Linked DNA regions of Homo sapiens. The protein of the gene in region 1 interacts with the protein of each later gene in a pairwise test. Each region holds a gene or a part of one and is shown in the gene's direction. Other genes may lie near its edges. The genes, in order: TRIM31, UBE2E2, UBE2D4, MAGEA2B, UBE2W, UBE2K and ZSCAN1.

Evidence for each region.
Region 2: the proteins of TRIM31 (region 1) and UBE2E2 interact in a two-hybrid assay, tested with the Homo sapiens proteins (one study listed by BioGRID).
Region 3: the proteins of TRIM31 (region 1) and UBE2D4 interact in a two-hybrid assay, tested with the Homo sapiens proteins (one large-scale study listed by BioGRID and IntAct).
Region 4: the proteins of TRIM31 (region 1) and MAGEA2B interact in a two-hybrid assay, tested with the Homo sapiens proteins (one large-scale study listed by BioGRID).
Region 5: the proteins of TRIM31 (region 1) and UBE2W interact in a two-hybrid assay, tested with the Homo sapiens proteins (one large-scale study listed by BioGRID and IntAct).
Region 6: the proteins of TRIM31 (region 1) and UBE2K interact in binary tests that used the Homo sapiens proteins (3 or more experiments, as listed by UniProt).
Region 7: the proteins of TRIM31 (region 1) and ZSCAN1 interact in a two-hybrid assay, tested with the Homo sapiens proteins (one large-scale study listed by BioGRID and IntAct).

The regions. Positions count from the first base shown.
Region 1 is NC_000006.12:30,110,291-30,114,314, reverse strand, and holds the start of TRIM31 (E3 ubiquitin-protein ligase TRIM31), read left to right. Parts: upstream 1-1,224; 5' UTR 1,225-1,251; intron 1,252-1,426; 5' UTR 1,427-1,509; coding exon 1,510-1,926; intron 1,927-2,475; exon of another isoform or gene 2,476-2,571; coding exon 2,572-2,667; intron 2,668-3,636; coding exon 3,637-3,867; intron 3,868-4,024.
Region 2 is NC_000003.12:23,209,827-23,213,326, forward strand, and holds part of UBE2E2 (ubiquitin-conjugating enzyme E2 E2), read left to right. Parts: intron 1-3,500.
Region 3 is NC_000007.14:43,936,436-43,939,935, forward strand, and holds part of UBE2D4 (ubiquitin-conjugating enzyme E2 D4), read left to right. Parts: intron 1-1,995; coding exon 1,996-2,059; intron 2,060-3,500. UniProt on the Homo sapiens protein: Accepts ubiquitin from the E1 complex and catalyzes its covalent attachment to other proteins. In vitro able to promote polyubiquitination using all 7 ubiquitin Lys residues, but may prefer 'Lys-11' and 'Lys-48'-linked polyubiquitination.
Region 4 is NC_000023.11:152,713,420-152,717,427, forward strand, and holds the start of MAGEA2B (melanoma-associated antigen 2), read left to right. Parts: upstream 1-1,208; 5' UTR 1,209-1,263; intron 1,264-1,427; exon of another isoform or gene 1,428-1,509; intron 1,510-1,659; 5' UTR 1,660-1,738; intron 1,739-2,537; 5' UTR 2,538-2,657; intron 2,658-3,228; exon of another isoform or gene 3,229-3,326; intron 3,327-3,476; 5' UTR 3,477-3,542; intron 3,543-3,622; 5' UTR 3,623-3,687; coding exon 3,688-4,008. UniProt on the Homo sapiens protein: Reduces p53/TP53 transactivation function through recruitment of HDAC3 to p53/TP53 transcription sites. Also represses p73/TP73 activity. Proposed to enhance ubiquitin ligase activity of RING-type zinc finger-containing E3 ubiquitin-protein ligases.
Region 5 is NC_000008.11:73,868,863-73,872,362, reverse strand, and holds part of UBE2W (ubiquitin-conjugating enzyme E2 W), read left to right. Parts: intron 1-2,061; coding exon of another isoform or gene 2,062-2,094; intron 2,095-3,500. UniProt on the Homo sapiens protein: Accepts ubiquitin from the E1 complex and catalyzes its covalent attachment to other proteins.
Region 6 is NC_000004.12:39,701,136-39,704,635, forward strand, and holds part of UBE2K (ubiquitin-conjugating enzyme E2 K), read left to right. Parts: intron 1-3,500. UniProt on the Homo sapiens protein: Accepts ubiquitin from the E1 complex and catalyzes its covalent attachment to other proteins. In vitro, in the presence or in the absence of BRCA1-BARD1 E3 ubiquitin-protein ligase complex, catalyzes the synthesis of 'Lys-48'-linked polyubiquitin chains.
Region 7 is NC_000019.10:58,032,695-58,036,824, forward strand, and holds the start of ZSCAN1 (zinc finger and SCAN domain-containing protein 1), read left to right. Parts: upstream 1-1,330; 5' UTR 1,331-1,467; intron 1,468-2,048; exon of another isoform or gene 2,049-3,275; 5' UTR 3,276-3,317; exon of another isoform or gene 3,318-3,788; coding exon of another isoform or gene 3,789-3,799; intron 3,800-4,130. UniProt on the Homo sapiens protein: May be involved in transcriptional regulation.

The DNA.
Region 1 (4,024 bases):
ATTATCATTATTTTCTAAATCATCATGCCAGTCAAACAAAACCTGTCAAAAGTTAAATTCTGCTTCTAGGGGCCAGCAGTTTAGGAGTGTAAGTAAAACAATTTACAGATGTTAGACTGTTTTAATTTAACCCTAAAACAAACAAAAAGAAAGGTCTGGAGGTATAACATTTCTGAAAGTCTTTGGTTTACAGCAGTTGCTATAAGGGGAGCCACATAATTTATAGTCCAAACTGGACATTTCTGAAAGTGAAAGGAGGTGCTATTAATAATTACACCAGGACAAAGTGAAACCCAGGATGGTTCCAGGCAAAGCAGAGTGTATGATCACTCTGGCTATTATTATAATAATCATCCACAAGCCCTGTTTGACCTAAGATTAAGATCAGACAAAAATTAATGGTGTACTTCTTGCTGGGGACAGACGGCTGATAATGGAGAGTGAGGAGGTGAGGGTGGAAGCTATACCAAGAGAAGGGGTAGGGAGGAAGCACCCTTTTCCTTAAGACAAGAGGCAAGGAGGGAAGGTTAGGACATGAATGTACAGAAGGGAATGTATGTAACACTGGTTGATATATTCCTAGTCATAACAAAAGCCATAGAAGGCAAGTCAGGGATCAGAGAAGCACCAAGAAGGAAGAAGAAGAACATATAGACAGAATTGGCAAAGCAAAGAATGGGCACGGAGACACCAGCATACTGGAGACATACAGAGAAAAAATCAACAGAGGACAGACTACTACAGGTGTTGTGGGGAGACAGAAGATCACCAGGGGCAAGAGCAAAGTGCAAAAACAAAGAACAACTCTTTAGAAAGGAAGTTCCTTGCCTATCCTACTGAGCTAGGGAGTGGTTGGTTGACCCTGTGACTGGAAATTCCCCAAGGTAGGTGATGATAACCTCCACATTTTCACAAAATTCTGTGAGGAGCCAAAGCACCTGAGGTAGAGAATTGCCCTTCCCCTACTTTCCAGATGCTCTACCAAGGCTTGAACTTTGCATACAAGATGCCCAAAGCATTGCAGTGAACTGGCTGTGACCTTTCAGTAGGCATCACCACCCACCCCTCCACTCCCTACTCAGAGCTGATTGGGAAATCCCCCATAAGTGGTGTTTGGTGCCCCGGTCATTCTGATCTTAGTCAACCACCATACAAACATACCTTTAGTCCAAAGTTCAGGACAACTTATTTCACTTTATAAGCAGCCTATTACACATTCAAAGTATCCATTTGTTCTCAAGAGGTAGCAAGGTAGGACTGCCCATCTGTTTTCCTCTCTTTATAATATTTTCTAGATCCTAAATTTTACGCTTTTCTATCATTTCTTTATTTTTTTCTCCCTCTTCTTTTCCTCTCTCTCTGCTCTTCTAACTAATTGGCAGAATCTCTGACCTCCACTTTCTCTGACTCCCTTCTCCCTTCCTAGAAACAGTATCCACAGTGGACTCCGGGGCTCCTACAGACTTGGCACAGCTTCCTACAGTCTTGAAACAGCCCTGTTGTTCTGTCATGGCCAGTGGGCAGTTTGTGAACAAACTGCAAGAGGAAGTGATCTGCCCCATCTGCCTGGACATTCTGCAGAAACCTGTCACCATCGACTGTGGGCACAATTTCTGCCTCAAATGCATCACTCAGATTGGGGAAACATCATGTGGATTTTTCAAATGTCCCCTCTGCAAAACTTCCGTAAGGAAGAACGCAATCAGGTTCAACTCGCTGTTGCGGAATCTGGTGGAGAAAATCCAAGCTCTACAAGCCTCTGAGGTGCAGTCCAAAAGGAAAGAGGCTACATGCCCGAGGCACCAGGAGATGTTCCACTATTTCTGCGAGGATGATGGGAAGTTCCTCTGTTTTGTGTGTCGTGAATCCAAGGACCACAAATCCCATAATGTCAGCTTGATCGAAGAAGCTGCCCAGAATTATCAGGTAGGCATTTGAGGTTTCTTCCCTGTTCCCCCATCAGCCCAGGAGTTCAGTGAGGCCCTGGAAACTGCTACCTTCCCACTGAGGGTTTGCACCCCATTGCCCCCACCCCTTGGGCTTGAGTGGGCAGCTCGCAGTCAGGCACAGTGGGTTCAAAGAGCTGAGTCTGGGGAACTGCTGACTCTCTAAATCAAGGTGCAATGGAGAATGGAAAGGATGTGAAAATTTGACTCAGAAGGTTTGGGCTCAAGCCCAGTCTTGTGAGTTTACTGTACAACCTGCAAGGAATCACTTTACCTCTCTGAGCCTCAGGTACCTCACCTTTCAAATGGCAAAAACAAAACAACTCTCTTAAAGTTGTTGGTAGGACAGATGAAGGGAAGTTTGTAGTTCTTTGATAATTCCAAAGCACCATCCATAGTCCTAGTTAGTCATAAATAACTATGTTCTGGTCATTTAGGTCACTTAGGCTCCAGATTTCTCCCTTCTCAGCAACCCCTTTCCCCGCCAGCTTGAGAAAGGCGAGTCCTTAATAATTACACAAGGACTCACCTGGAGAGTGTCACCAGCTCTCCTAAGAGACCAGGAGGATTTTATGAGGCCAGAAATCTCCAGGCACAGCCTGTCCAAACGGCCCTCTTTCCGCAGGGGCAGATTCAAGAGCAGATCCAAGTCTTGCAGCAAAAGGAGAAGGAGACAGTACAAGTGAAGGCACAAGGTGTACACAGGGTCGATGTCTTCACGGTAAGAAAAACTCCATCCCACGATCTCTGGAAGCAGAAACATCTCTGCCAAAGCTCCTGGAATCCCCTATTACACTGACCCCTCAGAAAAAGATCCAGTGAGCCATGTCCTCTCCTCGGCGCCTCAGCACCTGACCGGCCAGGCGGCATCACCTCCCGCGTCGGCCTCGCTATTACAGCGGGCTGACTGCTCAGTCTCCACCGGCAGACAAGGTGGGGCACGGAAAACCCGCGCTGGTCTTAGAATCGCAAGTACAGGTTTTTAAGGCCGAGCTGCGCCCTCAACGGATTCCCCAATTAGAAAATGAAGACATTGGCCGGGCGCGGTGGCTCACGCCAGTAATCACAGCACTCTGGGAGGCTGAGGATCGCTTGAGCCCAGGAGTTTGAGACCAGCCTGGGCAACATAGCGAGACTCTCCTCTTAATTAAAAAAAAAAAGAAAGAAAACTAGCCGGGCGTGGTAGCACACGCCTGTAGTCCCAGCTACTAGAGAGGCTGGGAGGTGAAAGTATTGTTTGAGCCTGGGAGGATGAGGCTGCAGTGAGCCGTGATCGTGCACTGCACTCCAGCCTGAGTGACAGAGTGAGAGACTGTCTCAAAAAAAAAAAAAAAAAAAGACAGAAGGAAAATGAAGACATTGTGACCCCACTTACCTATTTTCCTGTGTGCGTGAAAGGAATAAAATCTATATGAAAGATTATAAACTGAAAAGCCTTCTGGAATTGTATTAGACAGTTCCTTGAAGGCAAGTGGTAAACCATAAATTAATAATTTCGCTTAAAGCTGAGCACGTAGTAGGTGCTTTTAGAAGTTTGTTCTCCTCTCCTTTCCTTTCTTCCAGGTCTGCCCTGGCACATTGCTCTGGTTGGGAATTCCACACAAACTTAATAAAATTAATGGCTGAATAAAGTGGGCTAGAAGGACCTTCGAGGCCATCCTCTCACCCTCTGCCTGTCCCTGTTTCTTAGGACCAGGTAGAACATGAGAAGCAAAGGATCCTCACAGAATTTGAACTCCTGCATCAAGTCCTAGAGGAGGAGAAGAATTTCCTGCTATCACGGATTTACTGGCTGGGTCATGAGGGAACGGAAGCGGGGAAACACTATGTTGCCTCCACTGAGCCACAGTTGAACGATCTCAAGAAGCTCGTTGATTCCCTGAAGACCAAGCAGAACATGCCACCCAGGCAGCTGCTGGAGGTGAGTCCCTTGGGGGCAGAATTGCAGAGAGGTAGCAGCCCATCCCTAGTCTCAGGTCAGAGCATGGACCACTGGCAGAATACCTGAGATTGCCCCAACCATCCTACCTCTAGCCCAGTGCTGTCCAATAGCAATATGTGAGCCGCATGTATTAGAA
Region 2 (3,500 bases), on another chromosome or scaffold:
TGGAGGGATGGTGAGTGGTTATTCCAAGGTACTAGAGTATTCAGTTTCCCTTTCGTGGGGGTGTATTGCTGATCTCTGTTGAAGGAGCTGTTTGAAAGTCAGAGAGCCCTGAACTTTAAACTTTGAGACCTGTATACTAGACCATGCTAGGGTGGGGAAGAGGGTTCAGTTTGTTTTGCCATCACAACACAATTACCGGGGACTCAGCTGGCTGACCCTTCTGTTTGCCAGACCACAACACAAATGACCTGCTTAGAGGTGACCTGGAAAATGGGGGGTGGGGTTAGGATGGATGAGAAAGGTGGGGAATAGAGAAAATATGACATTTAGGTGAAAGAAGGAAGTCGATGTAGGTGGGAAGGAGATGTTCAGGTACAGATTGTAGTTCCACGCAGATGAGGAAGATCTAATTCAGTCCTCAGTGTCTGATTGGGTTTTTACAGGGCCTCTTCAGTTTGTCAGAAAAGGGGAAGGATTGGTTGGCCAGGTCTGTGGGGAATAGGGTTCTGCTGGGCCTGTGCTTTATTCTATGATTGCTAGTTAGCAAAGTCACCTGTTGTGGTGAGGCTCTGCCTTTTCCTCTAACTGGGAGCACCACTATAAAATACCTTAAAATCATATTTCTTGGGTGATATGTCAAAGACCAAATTCTGCTTATGAAAGATGTACTGCTTTATGTGTGAACATGAGTTTTTCAAGTACGTGGGTCATCTTTATTTTACTACAGTATATAGAGAAAGTACGGATTATTCAAACCTAATGATAGATTTCACGAGGGAAAAATATAGAAGATATTTTTCTGCACTGTATGTAGGAGATAAAACCTAGTTTAGAGATAATGTATGTGCAGAGCGCAGCGCAGTGCCTGATTGGCAGTAAATAGAAAGTGGTTGTATTGCATTGGTGAAAATAGGAAGTCTCTTTTGAGTTGCTTCCTGGCTGAAAGAATCCCTCCATTGGCAAATTGTTGTGAATCTGTGATTTTCAAATTGTGGTTCATGATCTTCCTCTAGAAAGGTCTTCAGTTGGTTTTCGGGTGACAGTGTATGAAATGATGTAATTATGTACTATTTATTTTAAATATAAAAATGCGGCTTCACTACTAATTTTTTAATTTAAAAAACCTTATTTTCCCCTCTCTCTTCCTCCAATTCAGCTGATAGTGAAGTTGTTGGTTCTTTGCCATTTCTGCTGAACTTAGGAAAAAAATTGGGAATTATGAGCACAGAGGACCCCACATCTTTTAAGTTCACTGCCATGTCCACAGTGCCTAGCAGAGTACAGTCACAGTATTTATTTACTGGCTGCCTTGGAACCCTGAGCTTCTTATAGGGATCGGATTTTCCATGGATATTAGGATCTTAGTACTAGTGTGTTCAGAAGATTAAAAGTTAGAGGTAGTTTCAAAATAAATTTTATTTCACACTTTTTTGTTGACGATCATTTTTATTCAGATGAGAAGCCTTTCCCAAATAGTGTCATTTTATGAGATAAAGAGTAGCATTGAAGAGCTTGAACTCTAGAGACAGCATCTACGTTTGAATCTAGGTTCTAGCATTTAGTAGCTATAGCTCTGTGGTCTTTTTTTTTTTTTTTTTGAGGCAGAGTCTTGCTCTGTCACCCAGGCTGGAGTGCAGTGGTATGATCTCCAACTCCTGGGCTCATTCAGTCCTCCAGCCTCAGCCTCCCAAGTAGCTGGGATTACAGGGTTGTGTCACCACACCAGGTTAAATTTTTAATGTATTTTTTGTAGGGATGGGAGTCTCACTATGTTGCTCAGGCTGGTCTTGAACTCATGGTTGCAAGCGATCCTCCTGCCTTGGTCTCTCAAAGTGTTGGAATTACAGGCATGAACCACTGTGCCTAGCCTCTGTGATCTTGATGTATAATTTAACAGCTCAAAGCCTCGATTTCTTCTTTCGTAGAAGGAAGATGATAACGGTACGCTGTTCAGAAGGTTCTTGTGAGGACTAAATGTGATAAAGCATTTATTTGGCACATAGTAAGCTCTCAAAACTGATGCCGTCACTGATAGACTTTATGTCAGTTAAAATCTACGGTCATATTTTTCAAGTCTGTTTGGTACAAACTTTGGAAAAATGAGGTATATGTTAACCTTGGAGGCCTTAATGCTATTGTTAAACTAGAAATACTCAGATGCCGTAATTAAATACATTTTGTAGTGACTTAGGAAAAGTGCTTGCACGTAGGTGCTCAGTTATTATATGAAATGTACTATAATTGTAGAATTAATAATTGTAATGCAGTAATTATAGAATTAATAAGCTGGTATAGAACTATGATTTGAAAAATCTCATTTGTGATATTATAGAATAGTGGTATATAATACAGAAAACATTTAAGTGGGTATTTAAACAGCAGTAGAAATTAATTTCTGTCTCAGAGTTAGGAGGAAAGATTACAGTTACATCTTAGATGCATTTTTGCTTTTCTTTGGCAAGAGTTTCTTAAAAAATTGTCATGCTCTTATCACAGCCTGTTCTCTTGATATGTCTATATCACTCTTGTTATATTTGCAAGTCTGTTGTTGGACTATATCTGCAGTGACAGATTTAGATTATTTTGATTAAATTGACTAGTCAGTTCAATAAAACGTCTATTTTGAGATCTTCTTTGAATTTATTCTGCTGCTTTTACGGGTTGATACATCTGTAAATGTGAATTTTATATCATATTTATTCTAAATTAACTGTTTAGAGTGGACATGGTGATTTTATTTTTGGACATTCAATATGATACTGTTCGAGGTATGGTTTTTGGTTTCAGACTAAATTTTTGTTAGGTTGAAAGATTGATTCCACTGTATTCCAGTTTGAACTTTTATCATATGGGCTCGTCTAAGTTTGTTTTCCACATGAGAATGAAATAGTACTTTTGTAGATAATCTTTTGTAATTACTGTATTTTCTTCATTCTAAAAGTACATTTTAAAACTTTTTAATGTTTCTGAAATTGGGACACATCTTAAAATTTATGTGCACAATTATTGATGGTGTGTCTTAAAATCAATGATCTTTCAGAATCATAGATATATAGTATATACCACCATTTAGAATGAAACTCTAGACTTCTTATTTGCAATGGCAATGTGTTTTCTAAAGATTGCTTTGACATTTAAAAAATTTTAATAATTAGTTGCATGATGCTTTTTTGAGAATAAGTTCATTTTGGAAGGTTTTCGCTAGGTGATTCAATTGATTAGAGTAGGGGTTTTTAGGTTGACTGAGGAATGTAGTCTGTAAGGGAATATAGAAAGTTGTCTAGATGAGATGAAGGGTTTTAAAAAAATTCCTGCTAAGAAATTACTTTGCGAATCTGCGTATCCACACATTCATGTTCTACTTGGCTCTCAGTAAATTTTTGAATTTTCTTTAACTCAAGAAATGTATGTGTGTGTTTTAAACATGTTAGTACATATACACTGCTTCATTTTTCTGAACCCTTAGCCCAATATATTGATGTTAAAATGAGTGTTTCGTA
Region 3 (3,500 bases), on another chromosome or scaffold:
TGTAATAGTAATTACTATATAAACTTAATCTACTTAATCCTTTACAATTAATAAAATATTTATATATTTAATGATTTGGTAATAAATTCCCATGGTTCAAAATGTGCACAGGATATACAGGGAAAAGTCTCCCACCCAAGACTGTCCCTAGCCATCCAGTTCCCCTCCTGGGTGGGCAACCAGTGTCGAAGTATTCTTCTAGAAATATATATATTCTACTTATTCCTCTCCCTTTTTATAATACTAATTGTAGCATTCTCTATACCACTATTATCTTGATATTTACTGGGTGCTCTTGCTTACATTATATACATTAAAAACTTACATGCAAAATTTGTAGCCACACAATAGTACCGGCAAGTTGGCAGGCAAGTATGATTACAACTTAACAGGTAATTACACTGAGGCCCAAAGAGGTGAAAGTGATTTCCTCAGTGACGGAGCTTGGATTCAGACCTGAGTCTTCTAACCCTGAGGTGAGCACAGGAATTCGATGTGTGAGTGGACTAGTTTCTTTCAAGTCACACCATTCTTCCTTGAAATGCCAGTTAGTATTCGAAACTCCTGGGTGCTGGTTGGAGTCTAACAATAGGGATCCACACGTGGCCTTTCAGGGATCATTAAGTGCTGGTGTAACTGTTCATCACACCTCTAAAGGGGGAACATGGATTCTGCATATAGGCAGTGCAAAAGCATAGAGGTGTGGGAAAACCTTGTGAGGTGGAGGGGAATTGGTCTGTACTGCTGGCTTTTCCTGCCCCTGGCTGTTCATATAACCTCTTCAGGATTTGCCTTAGCAGTTCTGTCATAGGGCTAATTTATCCATGCAGTGTAGCAATGAATATAAACAATTCTCCTGCACAGTGATAGTGGAGGTGCTGAGGGGCACATAGCAGAGAGGTAAGCTAAAAGGAACTGTTCCACAGAGATTTCTGTAGCTCTTGCATTTCTGAGCCTGTCCTTGGTCCCCTTGTATGACCTCACTTGTTCCCCAAGTTAAATTCTCTTTTGGCCACTCCTAATGCTGCTTCCTGAGTGCTTGCCAAGTATAATTCATTTTACTTATGAGGAAATGGGTTCAGATATATTAGATACTAATCGAGAATTGGCCAGTGGTATACTGGTAGATGTTTAAAGATCAACCCTCGGGGAGAAAACATGGCCCTGATTTGTAGCATTTGCTGGCTTCTGTGATGTTAATACTTCCATCTTGGCTGATTAAATTTGAAGTGAAGGGGATAAATGCAGGATGGCCAGAGATGTGGTTACTGAAATGATCAGCATGTCCAGAGACATATGGTGAAATCAGGAGAGTTTGTGTAGATAGGACAGTGTTTGGCTTAGTTCAGGGTTGGTGTCCCATAAAGGGAATCTAGTCGTGGTATAATCCCTGATCCCCACTGGTGCAGTGTTAAACTTTGGCTCACGTGCCAGTCTCCACATTCAGAGCCCTAGGACTTGCCACATAACCAGTGGTGACTAGGGTGATTGGGATGGTGGTTGGGGAGGTAAAGTAGAGAGATTAGCACTTCCTTGGTGCTGCTTCCATGCATTAATTCATTAGCCTAGCAGTAAAACCTGGCACCTATCCTTCTCCCAGAACTCTCTCCTGGGCTGCTTTTCTTCCATATCTTCAGCACCTGGGGGCCTGGGGATGTCCTCTACCTGAGGAGGTAGGAGGCTAGGCTTGGGGGTAAGGCAGAGCTACATGTGACTGACTTCTTGCCCTGCCCTCTTCCAGCTCTGTACCTTGAGTAGGTAACTTCATCACTTTACAATTCAATTTCCTAATGTATAAAATGGAAATGATCATACCTACTTCTCTGGTATCTTTGTAGCAGGGAGTAGAGTCCTATGACCCACCATGTCTCTAACCCCCTCCTGAGGCCTAGGAGCCTCCTCCCACCAGGAGAATTCCTTCCAGCTACCAAGATTGGTATGTAGAGGCAGCATCCCCAGCATACAGCAGCTCTGACCCACTCTCTCATGTTCTAGGAATTAACCGACTTGCAGAGGGATCCTCCTGCCCAGTGTTCTGCAGGACCTGTCGGTGATGACTGTAAGTATTTTGGGGGGCTTCAAGTTGTAGGAGCATTTTAATTAAGACCCCCCAACTTAGGCCAGGTGCGGTGGCTCACGCCTGTAATCCCAACACTTTGGGAAGCCAAGGTGGGTGGATCACCTGAGGTCAGGAGTTTGAAACTAGCCTGGCTAACATGGCGAAACCCCGTCTCTACTAAAAGTACAAAAATTAGCCGGGCATGCTGGCACATGCCTGTAATCCCAGCTACTTGGGAGGCTGAGGCAGGAGAATCGCTTGAACCCAGGAGGCAGAGGTTGCAGTGAGCCAAGATCGTGCCACTGCACTCCAGCCTGGGCAACAGACTCTGTCTGAAAAACAAACAAACACAAACAAAACCAAACAACCAAATTATCAGCCAAGCAGTATTTAAGAAAACCAATCAATGCTTTTCCCTTCATTTTCTCTTGAATGGCTTTTCATTTGAGGTCTAGGCCATGAGTTCACAGCAGCTTGGCTGGTCAGCTTATACTCAAAGTAGAACCTGCACTGCCTCTCATGTCCCATAGTCACCGCTTCCCTCTTCTGGCGCATGAGAAAGCCAGCTTGGCCTGAGGAGTCACATCAGCTGCTGGAAAGTGCCCTTGGCCAAGTCAAACTTGGGTGCTGGTGTAAATATTGTTGGAGTTGGTCTAGAGGACCTGGTGCTGCTGCAGCTCCTGGGAGCAGAGCAGGACAGTGGAGGAGGGGCAGGGCAGGGTAGGGCAGTGGCCACTTGCCTCTGCCAAGGGGAAGGGCAGTCCCTATTATTTTCTCCCACTTCCACTCTTCCCTGGCGGAGACTGAAGCAGCAGCTCTGGGCAGCTTCTTGGGAGAGAGAGGGAGAAGCAGCACTGCCTGTTCCAGGCCTCTGCTGTCCCTCACAGGTGCTGGCCGAGGCTGAGCTGCCCAGCACTAGGGTTTCCAGGTCTGTCCTCTGCCCACTCACCTTGCCTCCACTTTGTGGGCTTCTTGGGCTCTGGGACACCAATCCTTCCCTGTGAGGCTTCAGTAACTGCAGCCATAGGAAAATAGGTGGGGAGGGGAGATACTATGTGTTCAAGGAGAGTGGTGTCAGAGGTACATATACCAAAGAATCAAAAACAGAGTGAGACAGAATGTGTATGCCAATGTTCACGGCACCATTACTCATGATTTTCAGAAGCTGGTAACAACCCAAGTGCCCATCAGTGGATGACAGATAAACAAAATATGGTTCTGATACACATTACAACATGAAAACATCCCAAGTGAAATAAGCCGGAAAGAAAAGAATGAATATATGATTCCACTTACATGAAATATCTAGACTAGGCAAATTCATAGAGACAGACGGTAGATGAGAGATTACCTGAGGCTGATGGGGGGTGGAAATAGGAGAAATATTGTTTCATGGATACAGAATTTGTTGGGGGTGATGGAAAGCTTTAGAAATGGATGG
Region 4 (4,008 bases), on another chromosome or scaffold:
AGCTGGTACTTGTGTGTGACACTTGCAGTGTCTGTTGGAGGGGGTTAGCGGCAGAGATGTTGGGGAGGTTTGTAGCCTGCCTAGACGGCAGATGAAAGAATGGGTAGAATAAAAGTTTTGAATTTTCCACTTCACTTCATTGCACAATCTGAGGCAGCCCCTGAAAACACGATGCCAAGAGCCCTAGGTAATAGCAGTGTCCACCAGGAAAATTGGGTTTGTTAAGGCAGCATGGCTCCAGAGTTCTGCTAATAACAACCTGAAACCAACAGAGTGGGAGAGGAATTATGTTTTTTAAAAAAATTCTTTCAACAGAACACAAAGACTGGAATGGAAGTAGACTAGGATATCAGAGTGAATCATGCATACTAAGGGTAGGTGTTAGTTCATAGAAATAAATATATATATTGCTACCTACATATATACTTAGAAGATATGTAAACCGTATTTCTTCAATTCAGAGAATAAATCATTTAGGACCAAAGGTTTGCCAAGTGTAGCTCTGGCTGGGGAGGAGCCCCCGTGGGAAGGTGTGCGTCTTCTCCCAGAGGTCACTATCATCGCGGGAGCTCCTGCCCTGCAGGGAGCACCTGGCCTGGCACCCGCAGCCATTCTCTACAAGGGGTGCAGATGCGCAGATGCGCAGATGCTCAGAGGTGACAGAAACAGAGCATCTCCCACCCATTCCTTCATCAAACAGCCAGGAGTGAGGAAGAGGACCCTCCTGAGTGAGGACTGAGGATCCACCCTCACCCACATAGTGGGACCACAGAATCCAGCTCAGCCCCTCTTGTCAGCCCTGGTACACACTGGCAATGATCTCACCCCGAGCACACCCCTCCCCCCAATGCCACTTCGGGCCGACTCAGAGTCAGAGACTTGGTCTGAGGGGAGCAAACACAATCGGCAGAGGATGGCGGTCCAGGCTCAGTCTGGCATCCAAGTCAGGACCTTGAGGGATGACCAAAGGCCCCTCCCACCCCCAACTCCCCCGACCCCACCAGGATCTACAGCCTCAGGATCCCCGTCCCAATCCCTACCCCTACACCAACACCATCTTCATGCTTACCCCCACCCCCCCATCCAGATCCCCATCCGGGCAGAATCCGGTTCCACCCTTGCCGTGAACCCAGGGAAGTCACGGGCCCGGATGTGACGCCACTGACTTGCGCATTGGAGGTCAGAGGACAGCGAGATTCTCGCCCTGAGCAACGGCCTGACGTCGGCGGAGGGAAGCAGGCGCAGGCTCCGTGAGGAGGCAAGGTAAGACGCCGAGGGAGGACTGAGGCGGGCCTCACCCCAGACAGAGGGCCCCCAATAATCCAGCGCTGCCTCTGCTGCCGGGCCTGGACCACCCTGCAGGGGAAGACTTCTCAGGCTGAGTCGCCACCACCTCACCCCGCCACCCCCCGCCGCTTTAACCGCAGGGAACTCTGGCGTAAGAGCTTTGTGTGACCAGGGCAGGGCTGGTTAGAAGTGCTCAGGGCCCAGACTCAGCCAGGAATCAAGGTCAGGACCCCAAGAGGGGACTGAGGGCAACCCACCCCCTACCCTCACTACCAATCCCATCCCCCAACACCAACCCCACCCCCATCCCTCAAACACCAACCCCACCCCCAAACCCCATTCCCATCTCCTCCCCCACCACCATCCTGGCAGAATCCGGGCTTTGCCCCTGCAATCAACCCACGGAAGCTCCGGGAATGGCGGCCAAGCACGCGGATCCTGACGTTCACATGTACGGCTAAGGGAGGGAAGGGGTTGGGTCTCGTGAGTATGGCCTTTGGGATGCAGAGGAAGGGCCCAGGCCCTCCTGGAAGACAGTGGAGTCCTTAGGGGACCCAGCATGCCAGGACAGGGGGCCCACTGTACCCCTGTCTCAAACTGAGCCACCTTTTCATTCAGCCGCGGGAATCCTAGGGATGCAGACCCACTTCAGCAGGGGGTTGGGGCCCAGCCCTGCGAGGAGTCAAGGGGAGGAAGAAGAGGGAGGACTGAGGGGACCTTGGAGTCCAGATCAGTGGCAACCTTGGGCTGGGGGATCCTGGGCACAGTGGCCGAATGTGCCCCGTGCTCATTGCACCTTCAGGGTGACAGAGAGTTGAGGGCTGTGGTCTGAGGGCTGGGACTTCAGGTCAGCAGAGGGAGGAATCCCAGGATCTGCCGGACCCAAGGTGTGCCCCCTTCATGAGGACTGGGGATACCCCCGGCCCAGAAAGAAGGGATGCCACAGAGTCTGGCCGTCCCTTGTTCTTAGCTCTGGGGGAACCTGATCAGGGATGGCCCTAAGTGACAATCTCATTTGTACCACAGGCAGGAGGTTGGGGAACCCTCAGGGAGATAAGGTGTTGGTGTAAAGAGGAGCTGTCTGCTCATTTCAGGGGGTTGGGGGTTGAGAAAGGGCAGTCCCTGGCAGGAGTAAAGATGAGTAACCCACAGGAGGCCATCATAACGTTCACCCTAGAACCAAAGGGGTCAGCCCTGGACAACGCACGTGGGGGTAACAGGATGTGGCCCCTCCTCACTTCTGTTTCCAGATCTCAGGGAGTTGATGACCTTGTTTTCAGAAGGTGACTCAGGTCAACACAGGGGCCCCCATCTGGTCGACAGATGCAGTGGTTCTAGGATCTGCCAAGCATCCAGGTGGAGAGCCTGAGGTAGGATTGAGGGTACTCCTGGGCCAGAATGCAGACAGGGGGCCCCATAGAAATCTGCCCTGCCCCTGCGGTTACTTCAGAGACCCTGGGCAGGGCTGTCAGCTGAAGTCCCTCCATTATCCTGGGATCTTTGATGTCAGGGAAGGGGAGGCCTTGGTCTGAAGGGGCTGGAGTCAGGTCAGTAGAGGGAGGGTCTCAGGCCCTGCCAGGAGTGGACGTGAGGACCAAGCGGACTCGTCACCCAGGACACCTGGACTCCAATGAATTTGGACATCTCTCGTTGTCCTTCGCGGGAGGACCTGGTCACGTATGGCCAGATGTGGGTCCCCTCATCTCCTTCTGTACCATATCAGGGATGTGAGTTCTTGACATGAGAGATTCTCAAGCCAGCAAAAGGGTGGGATTAGGCCCTACAAGGAGAAAGGTGAGGGCCCTGAGTGAGCACAGAGGGGACCCTCCACCCAAGTAGAGTGGGGACCTCACGGAGTCTGGCCAACCCTGCTGAGACTTCTGGGAATCCGTGGCTGTGCTTGCAGTCTGCACACTGAAGGCCCGTGCATTCCTCTCCCAGGAATCAGGAGCTCCAGGAACCAGGCAGTGAGGCCTTGGTCTGAGTCAGTGTCCTCAGGTCACAGAGCAGAGGGGACGCAGACAGTGCCAACACTGAAGGTTTGCCTGGAATGCACACCAAGGGCCCCACCCGCCCAGAACAAATGGGACTCCAGAGGGCCTGGCCTCACCCTCCCTATTCTCAGTCCTGCAGCCTGAGCATGTGCTGGCCGGCTGTACCCTGAGGTGCCCTCCCACTTCCTCCTTCAGGTTCTGAGGGGGACAGGCTGACAAGTAGGACCCGAGGCACTGGAGGAGCATTGAAGGAGAAGATCTGTAAGTAAGCCTTTGTCAGAGCCTCCAAGGTTCAGTTCAGTTCTCACCTAAGGCCTCACACACGCTCCTTCTCTCCCCAGGCCTGTGGGTCTTCATTGCCCAGCTCCTGCCCGCACTCCTGCCTGCTGCCCTGACCAGAGTCATCATGCCTCTTGAGCAGAGGAGTCAGCACTGCAAGCCTGAAGAAGGCCTTGAGGCCCGAGGAGAGGCCCTGGGCCTGGTGGGTGCGCAGGCTCCTGCTACTGAGGAGCAGCAGACCGCTTCTTCCTCTTCTACTCTAGTGGAAGTTACCCTGGGGGAGGTGCCTGCTGCCGACTCACCGAGTCCTCCCCACAGTCCTCAGGGAGCCTCCAGCTTCTCGACTACCATCAACTACACTCTTTGGAGACAATCCGATGAGGGCTCCAGCAACCAAGAAGAGGAGGGGCCAAGAATGTTTCCCGACCTGGAGTCCGAGTTCCAAGCA
Region 5 (3,500 bases), on another chromosome or scaffold:
CTTACTATTGTAGAACTGCTTAATAGACTGACCTAAAATAGAATTAAACTAATGCAGAATTAGCTATTTAGGAATGCTTTTTGAAGTGTTAAGTAATGGACAAATATTTACGGTAGTCACTGTGTGCACATTTAAGGGATAGAGGGAAAGTATTTTTTCCTGCCTTAATGAAGCAGGAAATCTAAAGCAGAAAGTAATATCAGATTATCCTTCAAGGCTGGCCACCGCGCCTGGCCTTCAAAGATAATCTTCATTATCAAGGAGAGTTTTTAAGGTGGGATGATCCCAGCGTGGGACAAAAATTAGCTGGGTGTGGTAGCACATTCCTGTGGTCCCAGCTACTTGGGGGGCTGAGGTGGGAGGATCACCTGAGCTCAGGGAGTTCGAGGCTACAGTGAGCCAGGATTGTGCCACTCTACTCCAGCATGGGTGACAGAGTGAGACCCTGTCTCAAAAAATTTATATAAAAATAAAAAATAAAGTGCCGCTGCACTCCAGCGTGGGTGACAGAGTGAGACCCTGTCTCAAAAAGTATATATAAAAATAAAAAATAAAGGGATGATCTGGCATCTCTCTGAAAATATAGTTCTCCTTAGTATTTACCTAAATTAAGCATTTGTTAGATGAATTTTATTCCATCTTTATATTATTGCTGTCTGCTTCATTATGAGTAGTATCTGCAAAATACTTGTTCATGTTTGTCAGGTATTAAAGTGTCCTCATTTGAAAGCCTTTATTTGTGAATGTAGTTCTTGGATCACCAAAAAACAGCGCATGCTTTTGAGTTGTTTTATTCTAAGAAAATACTCTACTTTCATTTAGCTGCTTTTGTAAAACTTCATTAGAGATAAAGAACACAGGCTCTGTAATGAAAAGACCCAAATTCAGGTCCTGTTTCACTACTTTTTAAAAAGCTATATTGCACAGAAATCATTATGGAGTGTAGTGGGTAGACAAAAACAGATTAGCAGATAGATAAACATATAAAACTGCATTTTGTATTTATCTTACCCAAACTTGTTTTCTGTAGTACTCCCCATGTTGGTATATAGGCAACTTCATTCCATTTGCTCAGCCAGAAACCTTGGGTTCATTCCACCCTACAGTCAAACCATTAGCAAATTTCTATCTGCTCTGCTTTCAAAATATATCCAGAATTCAACTGATTTTCTGAATTCCTGATGTAAATACAGATGACATCCTCATTTCTTGCCTGGATTATATTAGCAGTGTCATACTGGTTTTCCTACTTCTGCCCTCATCCGTTTACTTATCTCTTTAGATTCCCAATAGATTCTTTCTAAACAAAAGTCATGTCATTTCATTCATAATCCTACTATGACTTCCCTCTCTTCCTCAGAATATAATCCAAAATCCATGTTATAGCCTAGGAGGTCTTAACCTCTCCCAGGTACTCATGTCTCTGTAGCCTTATTGTCCTCCTTGCTACTCCTGCTTGTTGTTTTCTCTATTTGGAATGCTCTTCTCACACATCTGGATGATCTGGATGGCTTCCTTTTTTTTTTTTTTTTTTTCTTTTCACTCATAGCTTTGTTCAAATATTTTTTTTTTAAGAGAGCCCTTCCTGACTACCCAATATAAAATAGCTCTCCCATCCCAGCGCTAATAATTTCCTTTACCTTGATAAATTCTTCATACCTTTGGCTATGTATTAATTAGCTTATTTTCTATTTTCTTGGATGTAACCTAGTGCCTGACATGTAGGAGAGTTCAGTAAATGTCGAATAAATGAATAAGTGAGCACAGCTTTTGGAATCAGATAACCTTGGGTTTGAATTCTAGTGTTGTTGTTTAATAGCTGTGTAACCTCCCACCTCCAAATATAAAATAGGGATGATAAAAACAGGTTATTTCATTTCCTGGATCTTTGGAATTGGTGAATTATCTTTTAATGCTATGTTTCCCATTTTAAGCTAGCTCTACTAGATGCTTTTGTCTTTTTTTTTTTTCTGATTTCTAGTCCCTGCACTAGCTATCAATGGAAAAAATAGATTTCCTTTATGACCATGTGTTACATGAGGTCTTTCTTTGTATTTTCAGACCACAGGAAGGAGGGTGGAAGTATGGTTTCCAGTAAGTGTGTGTTTTTTTGCCAATCCTCTTCAAAACTTGAGAATTAGTCAAATAAAATTGTGAGCTATTAAAGTCCATTTTGACATCCTTTTAATGCACAATTTTTTCTTCTAATTGAAATATAATCCACATATAAAACTTACCCTTTTAAAGTATACAGTTCAGTGGTTTTTAATCTGTTCAGAACCATCACTGCTGTTTGCAGAACATTTTCATCACCCCAGAAAGAAACTCCTTATCCATTAGCAGTCACTCCCTATTTCCCCCTTTCCCCAGTGTCTGGAAACCACTCATCTATTTTTTGTCTCTGGATTGGTCTATTCTGGGTATTTTGTGAGAGTGGAATTATATTATATATGACCTTTTGTGCCTGGCTTCTTTCACTTAGCTGTTTGTTTGAGACAGGTGAGACAGGGTCTCATTTTGTCACCCAGGCTGGAGTGCAGTGGCACAATAGGCTCACTGCAACCTCTGCCTCCTGGGTTCAAGTGATCCTCCTGCCTCAGCCTCCGTAATAGCTGGTACTACAGGCATGCACCACCATACCCAGCTAATTTTTGTAGTTTTTTTTTTCCCTGAGACAAGAGTCTTGCTCAGTCTCCCAGACTGGAGTGCAGTGGCACCATCTCGGCTCATTGCAACCTCCGTCTCCCAGGTTCAAGCAATTCTTCTGCTTCAGCCTCCCGAGTAGCTGGGACTGCAGGCGTGCGCCACCACACCCAGCTAATTTTTGTATTTTTAGTAGAGACGGGGTTTCACCATGTTGGCCAATCTGGTCTCTTACTTCTGACCTCAAGAGATCCACCTGTCTTGGCCTCTTAAAGTGCTGGGATTACAGGTGTGAGCCACTGTGCCCAGCTAATTTTTGTATTTTTGTAGAGACGGGGTTTAACCATGTTGGCCAGGCTGGTCTTGAACTCCTAGACCTTGTGATCCGCCCGCCTCGGCCTCACAAAGTGCTGGGATTACAGGCATGAGCCACTGTGCCCGGCCTTAAAAAAAGCTTTTATATAGACAGATTCACTGTGTTGCCGAGGCTGATCTTGAAACTCCCAGTCTCAGCACCCCTCCTGCCTAGGCTTCCCAAAGTGTTGCGATGACTGGCCTGAGCCACCATGCCCAGTTCATAATGTTTCTGAGGTTCATCCATGTTGTAGCTTGTATGAATACTTATTCCTTTTCGTAGCCAAGTAATGGCCCATTTTTTGGTTGTACTGCAGTTTATCCATTCACCAGTTATTTAAATATCAGATATTTGTGTTTCCTGTTTTCATTCATCAATGGATTAATTGACAGTTTGGATTGTTTCCCCTTTTTAGTATGAATAATGCTGTGAACATGTATGTACAAGTTTTTATGTAGGCTTGTGTTTTAATTTGTTTTTGTTAATATACCTTGCATGTAGG
Region 6 (3,500 bases), on another chromosome or scaffold:
TTTCTTTTTATTAATTAATATTTATTTTCTTTGTTTTAGATGTTTGTTTTTAAATATGAGTGTGAATTTTAAGTAGTTTTAAATAATATTCCAAAGTTGTTAGGCATGGAATATTGATGTAAAGTACATTTTATAATTAGTTATTTTATGAGTAGGATTACATAAGTAAATTATTAATTGTGAGGATATAAACCCATAATCAATGTTTTATTCATAAGTTTTATTATTTACTATTAGTTATTGCTGCTGTTAATAACTAGCTGCCATTTGTAGAATGGCTAGTTGTTCTTAGTATCATTTGTTTTTACGTTATTGCTAATTCTTAAGCACAGTTCTTTAGATGTCCTATTTCCTAGATGAGAAAATAGAGATTTAGAGAAGTTAAATTATTTGTCTGCAATCACAGAGCCTGGGATTTGGATCTAGGTCTGCTTGTGTTCATATTGTCCCACGCTGTCATGACTTGCTAAGGATAGGCATGCTTTTAATTAATTTAAAAAATCGAGCCTGGTTTGTATTACTGGTTAAAGGATTTAAACACAGTTTAATTTGCTAGTTTAAACTCATTGAAATAAGTGTTACCTATAATTAACTTTAAGATGTACTTGAATTTCTTTCTTTCATGTTTTTTTTTTTTTCTTTTAAGAAGGAATCTCGCTGTCTCGCCCAGACTGGAGTGCAGTGGTGCGATCTCAGCTCACCACAACCTCTGCCTCCCAGGTTCTAGAGATTCTGCCGCCTTAGCCTCCTGAGTAGCTGGGATTACAGGTGCCCGCCACCACGCCCAGCTAATTTTTGTATTTTTAGTAGAGACGACGTTTCACCATGTTGGCCAGGCTGGTCTTGAACTCCTAACTTCAAGTGATCCGCCTGCCTCAACCTCCCAAAGTGCTGGGGTTACAGGCATGAGCCACCACACCCAGCCAGATTTACTTGAATTTCAATATACCAAATATTTTAAAATTTGAAACTTAATGAAATAAAACACCCTTAAATCAGTGCACTCTCTTGTTGGTCTTATGCTATATGGCACCTGTTGGTTTTTCATGTTGTAATTGCACTTTGGTAACATTTTCTTTTCTTTTCTTTTCTTTTCTTTTTTTTTTTTTTTTTTTTTTTTTTTTTTTTTTTTTTTTGAGACGGAGTTTTGCTTTTGTTGCCCAGGCTGGAGTGCAATGGCGCGATCTTGGCTCACCCCAACCTCCGCCTCCTGGATTCAAGCAATTCTCCTGCCTCGGCCTCCTGAGTAGCTGGGATTATAGGCATGCACCACCATGGCTGGCTAATTTTGTATTTTAAGTAGAGGCGAGGTTTCTCCATGTTGGTCAGGCTGGTCTTGAACTCCCGACCTCAGGTGATCCACCCGCCTCGACTTCCCAAATTGCTGGGATTACAGGAGTGAGCTACTGCACCTGGCCAACATTTTCTAGTCTCATAGGGCGTGTTTAAATCTATGGCATAAACAAATTGGTTTCGTGAAAATTACTATATAGTACATTAAGTTTTCCCTCATCATTTAAATAGATTTTTGTGTCTATTTTCCTTTAAAATTTTAATGTACTTGATCTAGCTTGATCTAGATTATTCTGTAATAGAAGTAGTTGTAAATCTCTAAAAGTAAGTCTTTTGATTTCTGTAGACCATGGATTTTTTAACCTTGGCACTACTGACATTTTGGGCAGATAGTTCTTTGTTGAGTGGCTCTCCTGTGCATTGTGGGATGTTTAGCAACATCCCTGACCTCTACCAGTATATGCAGGTAGCACTGCAGAGCCCCAGCGCATGTCCCCACTATCTCTTCTTGCTGGATGCATCAACTAAAAATGTCCCCAGACTGCCATATGTTGAGAACTATGTAGACAAAACTTTTTTTTTTGATACAGAGTCTTGCTCAGTCACCCAGGCTGGAGTGCAGTGGCACGATCTCAGCTCACTGCAACCTCCACCTCCTGGTTGCAAGCCATTCTGCCTCAGCCTCCCGAGTAGCTTGGATTACAGGCGCCTACTACCATGCCCGGTTAATGTTTTTATTTTTAGTAGAGACGGGGGTTTCACCATGTTGGCCAGGCTGGCCTGACAAAACTCTTTAAAAGAGTGTTTATGGCCAGGTGGGGTGGCTTATGCCTGTAATCTAGCATTTTAGGAGGCTGAGACTCGATTGAGGCCAGGAGTTCAAGACCAGCCTGGGCAACATAGTGAGAGTTTGTTACTACTAACATTTAAAAAAAATCAGCCAGGCCTGGTGGTATGTGCCTATAGTGGCAGCTACTCGGGAGGCCGAGGCTGGAGGATGCTTGAGCCCATGAGGTCAAGGCTGCAGTGAATTGTGATCATGTGACCGCACTTTAGCCTGGGCATCAGCGAGACCCTGTCTCATAAATGAAAAAAGAAAATGATTCCTGGCTATTTATTAACTATATAAGAAGAACACAGCCAGGCGTGGTGGCTCACGCCTGTAATCCCAGCACTTTGGGAGGCCTAGGCAGGTGGATCACGAGGTCAGGAGATCGAGACCATCCTGGCCAACATGATGAAACCCCGTCTCTACTAAAAATACAAAAATTAGCCGGGCATGGTGGTGAGTGCCTGTAGTCCCAGCTACTTGGGAGGCTGAGGCAGGAGAATTGCTTGAACCGGGGAGGTGGAGGTTGCAGTGAGCGAGATGGCACCACTGCACTGCAGCCTGGCGACAGAGCGAGACTCCATCTCAAAAAAAAAAAAAAAAAAAGAATACTTTGAGACTTAACTGTATCAGATGTGTAAGATAATTTATCTAAAGAATAAATGGACACAGACAGTAAAGACAAAAAATATATACTGGCTTTGAATGTTTTATTTTTAAAACTTTTAAGTTTGTTTCCCGTTTTTAGTGTTTTTCTTTTAAAATTTCTCGCTTTTGATTTTAATAAAAAGGTAAAATTTTCTACCAAAAATGAATGTAACGAGAATTTGAACAGTTGTTTCTAAGACTAGAGGCAGGCGTGGTGGCTCACATCGGTAATTGCAGCACTTGGGGAGGCTGAGGCAGGAGAATCGTTTGAGTCTGGGAGGTCGAGGCTGCAGTGAGCGGTGATTGTGCCACTGCACTCCAGCCTGGGTGACAGAGCAACACACTGTCTCCAAATAGTAAAAAAGTGGTTTTTAAAGTTTTTATTTTTATTTTATTTTTTCAAAAGTGTGTTTGAAAGTTATGTAAGTTACAGTTTTATGTAATATTTAAATAGTATTTCTTATGGTTTCTGGAATGGGTTGAGCAAGGAAAGCCTATAGATTGGGTTAAAAAAAATCAAAGTCTGTGCAGGTAATATGTTTGGGGTGAATTCCTTGTATACAGTGTTACAAAGACTTTGAGCTCTGTCCATTGGGCGTAGGTTTAGACACATCTGGGCTCCCTAGCTTCTTCCCTTTTTATTTATTTATTTTTGAAACAGAGTCTCACTGTCACCAAAGCTAGAATGCAGTGGCGTGATCACAGTTCACTGCAGCCTTGAACTCCCCAG
Region 7 (4,130 bases), on another chromosome or scaffold:
CTCTCCTGCTTCTTCTTCAGCAATGAGCAGCTTCAGCTATCCTGAGCTCAGTCCCAGAGCTGAGGACCCTCCTTGCATCATGATCTCACCCCCACCTGATTTCAGATACAAAACGAGTATCTGTGGAACCCTACTATTCTGGCACATGGTTACATTGTAGACATTAATATTAAAACTTATTTATATGAAATGTTCTTATGTAAGGTTTCGTTAAAGTATATGAAATATAGGACACATTGATACTAATTCCTTGTTTTTCTTTTTCTTTCTTTCTTTTTTTTTTTTTTTTTTTTTTTTTGAGACAGAGTCTCACTCTGTTGCCCAGGCAAGGCTGGAGTGCGTTGGCAGGTCTCGGCTCACTGCAACCTCGGCTTCCCCAGTTCCAGCGATTCTCCTACCTCAGCCTCCCGAGTAGCTGGGATTACAGGCACGCACCACCATGCCTGGCTAATTTTTGTATTTTTAGTAGAGACGGGGTTTCACCATGTTGGCCAGGCTGGTCTGAAACACCCGACCTCAGGTGATCCGCCTGCCTCGGCCTCCCGAGTTCTGGGATTACAGGCGTGAGCTATCGCGCCCGGCCTCCTTGTTTTTCTTGAGTTTACATATAACTGAGGTTTCTTTTTTCTTTCTTTTTTTTGGGGGTGGGGGGACGGAGTCTCGCTCTGTCACCCACGCTGGAAAACTGGAGTGCAATGGAGCAATCTCGGCTCACTGCAACCTCCGCCTCCCCGGTTCCAGTGATTCTCCTGTCTCAGCCTCCTGAGAAACTGGGATTACAGGCATGCGCCACCACGCCCAGGTAATTTTTGTATTTTTAGTAGAGACGGGGGTTTCACCATATTGGTCAGGCTGGTCTCGAACTCATGACCTCGTGATCCGCCTGCCTTGGCCTCCCAAAGTGCTGGGATTACAGGCGTGTCACCGCGCCCGGCCGACGTCCTGTATTTTTATTTGCTAAGAGTGGCGATCCTAGTCTGGGACATACTTGTACTAAACATATTTATATTAAAAACAATGTTTTAACATACTACTCTTGGACACTGTATAAAACGGTTGCGTGTCTGGAATGCCGTCGTTTTGCCCCGCGGCCCCATCGTACATGCGCATCCCCGCAGCCGCCACCGTCTCCACTTTCCGCAGCAGCGTCCCTGACGCTGCGCGACCCGTTGCCAAGGCGACTGGAACCGCGGCCCGAGGTAACTGGAGGGCACGGCGGGGGCGGGGCGCTCATCCCAGGCGGCTTCTGATTGGCCTCGGCCGCCTCGTGCGTCACAGCCCCGCCCCTGCCCGGGAGTCCCGCAGCGGTGACTTGTCACCGACGCCCGGCGTGATCCAGCGGACCAATGGCGGCCGCCCGCGGCGCGCAGGGTGCGGGGATGGGGTCCGCCCGCGGCGTTGGGCGCGCTCGCCAGCCCAGGGGTCGCCATGACCGAGTGGCCCAGGCCCGAGCGAAGCCCGCGCGCGGTGAGTCCGCCGCGGCCCATCCGTCCCTCCGCCCGCCAGAGCGTCCATCGGGACGCCCACCCGGGAGGGTCTCGGCGCCGCGTCGGCGGGAGCTGGCCCGGGATCGCGGTCCAGGGGCGCGCGTCGGGGGAGGCGGGCCCGGGCCCGGGAGGGGGCGGGCCGGGCCGGGGTTCCAGAGCCCATCGGGAGTCCTGAGGTCGCCGTAGGGGAGGGAAGGGGAAGGCTAGAGGCCACGCGGGGCGGGGACTGGGGGGGCTGGGGCCGCCCCTTCCGCAGGGACCCCGACCCCTGTTGGCATCCGCCTGTCCGTTTGAGGCCGAAGCCCCTCTACGTACCCCCATTGCCCGCCCAAACACCGCTCGGCCGCGTCCAAGTTCTCCCTTCCACACCTGATCAGCATCCCGGGACCTATCTCCCTCCTGAACAGCCGCCCCCGGACCCATCTCCCTCCCTACCCGGCCCCTTGGGCCCATCCCCCACTGGAACAGCAGCCCCCGACCCGTCTCTCTCCCTACAAGCTCCCCCTCCCCGCCCCAGGCCCATCTCCCTCCTGAACAGCCGCCCCCGACCCATCCCCCACCCAATCACCCCACCATCCTCCCCCCAACCAGCCGTCCACAGCCGTCGTCGCTGCCCCTCCCCTGTATTCCCAGTGCGCTGCCCTTGCACACTTCCCCAGCTCGTTTATTATGGAACTCCTCCGTGTGGCATCCTAAGCTCCCAACGCCCTCCCCACTGTAAGCCCCCTTCTCAAAGCCAGAACCATTCACTGACTGGCGCAGTGAACACGTCTTCTATGTCACTAAGCATCCGGCATCAGCGGCAAAGCCCTTCTGCCCATCCCCGCAATAGAATTTGGGGCTCGGGCTGCAGATCTCAGTGCCCATGCCAGGTGAACCTGGCCCTTCCACAGGCACTGAGCCCTCCAAGTGACACTCTCTCACACACACACATCCCCAACATTAATCAGAGACCCCTACCAAAGTAGACTTCTAGGACCCCAGGGCCACCACAGCATTGCCCATGGGGGGGCCCAGATCCTCCTCACCAGCCATGTAGACCTCAGTCCCCTTCACATCATCCCAGGCCCTCTTCATCTTCCAGAAACAGCCACCCATCAGTCCAGGACTCTCATCAGCTCAGGTACCCCCACATTGGCCTAGGTGTTCCACATCAGCCCCCATATAGACCCCAGACACACCCATGGACCTCTGGTGCCTTCTGCTAAGACCTCCTCTTTACCCTCATCCCTGATAAACTTAGCATCTCCTCCCACAGACCTCAGCCCAGGACCCTGGAGGATGCTGAGGGGCTACAGCCCCCCTCCCTAGAGTCTCCAGGGTGAGCTGCCATGAGCACCTGAGAGAGTATAAGGTCTGAGGCCCCAGGGCAAAGGGATTTCTTGAACCTGTGGAGCTTCAAAATAGGCCCTTTTTTCTTATTCAAAACTACATATATAAAAGTGTGAATACAACATAAGAGAGCATTTTTGCCTGTGGCCTTGGCAGGGAAGACCAAGCTGGTAGTTTCCCAATCAGGGTGCAGGTGGCCGGGTACGCTGACTCGAAGATGGCTGGCTGGGCACAGTCCCCGTGAGTTGCCTTTCTGCCACCCTGCACCTCTCCTTTCTCCTGGATTGTAAAACCAGATGCACGAGAACTGCAGAGTGTATGAAAAATGCAGCAGAGGATGAAGAGGGAAAAATCCCATGGAATCCCTCCTTTTCACTTGTCATAAGCATTTCCCATATGGTCAAAAATCCTTCCTAAAGATGTCTTGTTTTGTTTTGTTTTTCCATGTTGATGAAGGTCACATGGGAGCCCGACACCATTTGGAGGAGATTCAGAGAAGTATGAACAGCACAAAGCACTTGGCCGCCCCCCATGGGCGTCTTCCCAGGACTCCCTTTCTATGACACTCACGCATCATCCTGCATCCCACGTTCCCTGTGCCTCATGTCATCTGTACATCATGTGTCTACTCCCCGTGGTCATGTCATAGTGTTGTGTACTGGGCACGGTTGAATACTCCCATCACATGATGGGGGAGGTAGTTGATCCCACCACGTTCAACTGTTGGGCACTTTTGTAGTGAATCTTGGTGCCTGAATCTCGCATCTTGCACGCAGTCTACCAAGTGTTCTTGATATATAAATGGCCACAGTGCTTTCCAGAAAGGTCGTGCCAATTTATATTCTCACCAGCGGATCAGTCCAGAGTACAATTGTTAAAGACAAACAAACGAAACCTCCCTGCTTATTTTTATTTTTACAACTTTTAATGTTTTCTTCAGTTATATGTTCACCATAGTCGGCTTGGAAAATGTACAAAAGGTAACTTCTTTTTTTTCTTTTCTTTTTTTTTTTTTTTTTTGAGACAGAGTCTTACTCTGTCGCTCAGGCTGGAGTGCAGTGGCACAGTCTCAGCTCACTGCAATCTCCGCCTCCTGGGTTCAAGCATTTCTCCTGTCTCAGCCTCCCGAGTAGCTGGGATTACAGGTGCGTGCCACCACGCCCAACTCATTTTTGGTTATTTATTTTTTTTGGGATGGAATCTCACGCTGTCACTCAGGCTGGAGTACAGTGGTGCGATCTTGGCTTACTGCAACCTCTGTTTCCTGGGTTGGAGCAATTCTCCTGCCTCAGCCTCCCACGTAGCTGGGAT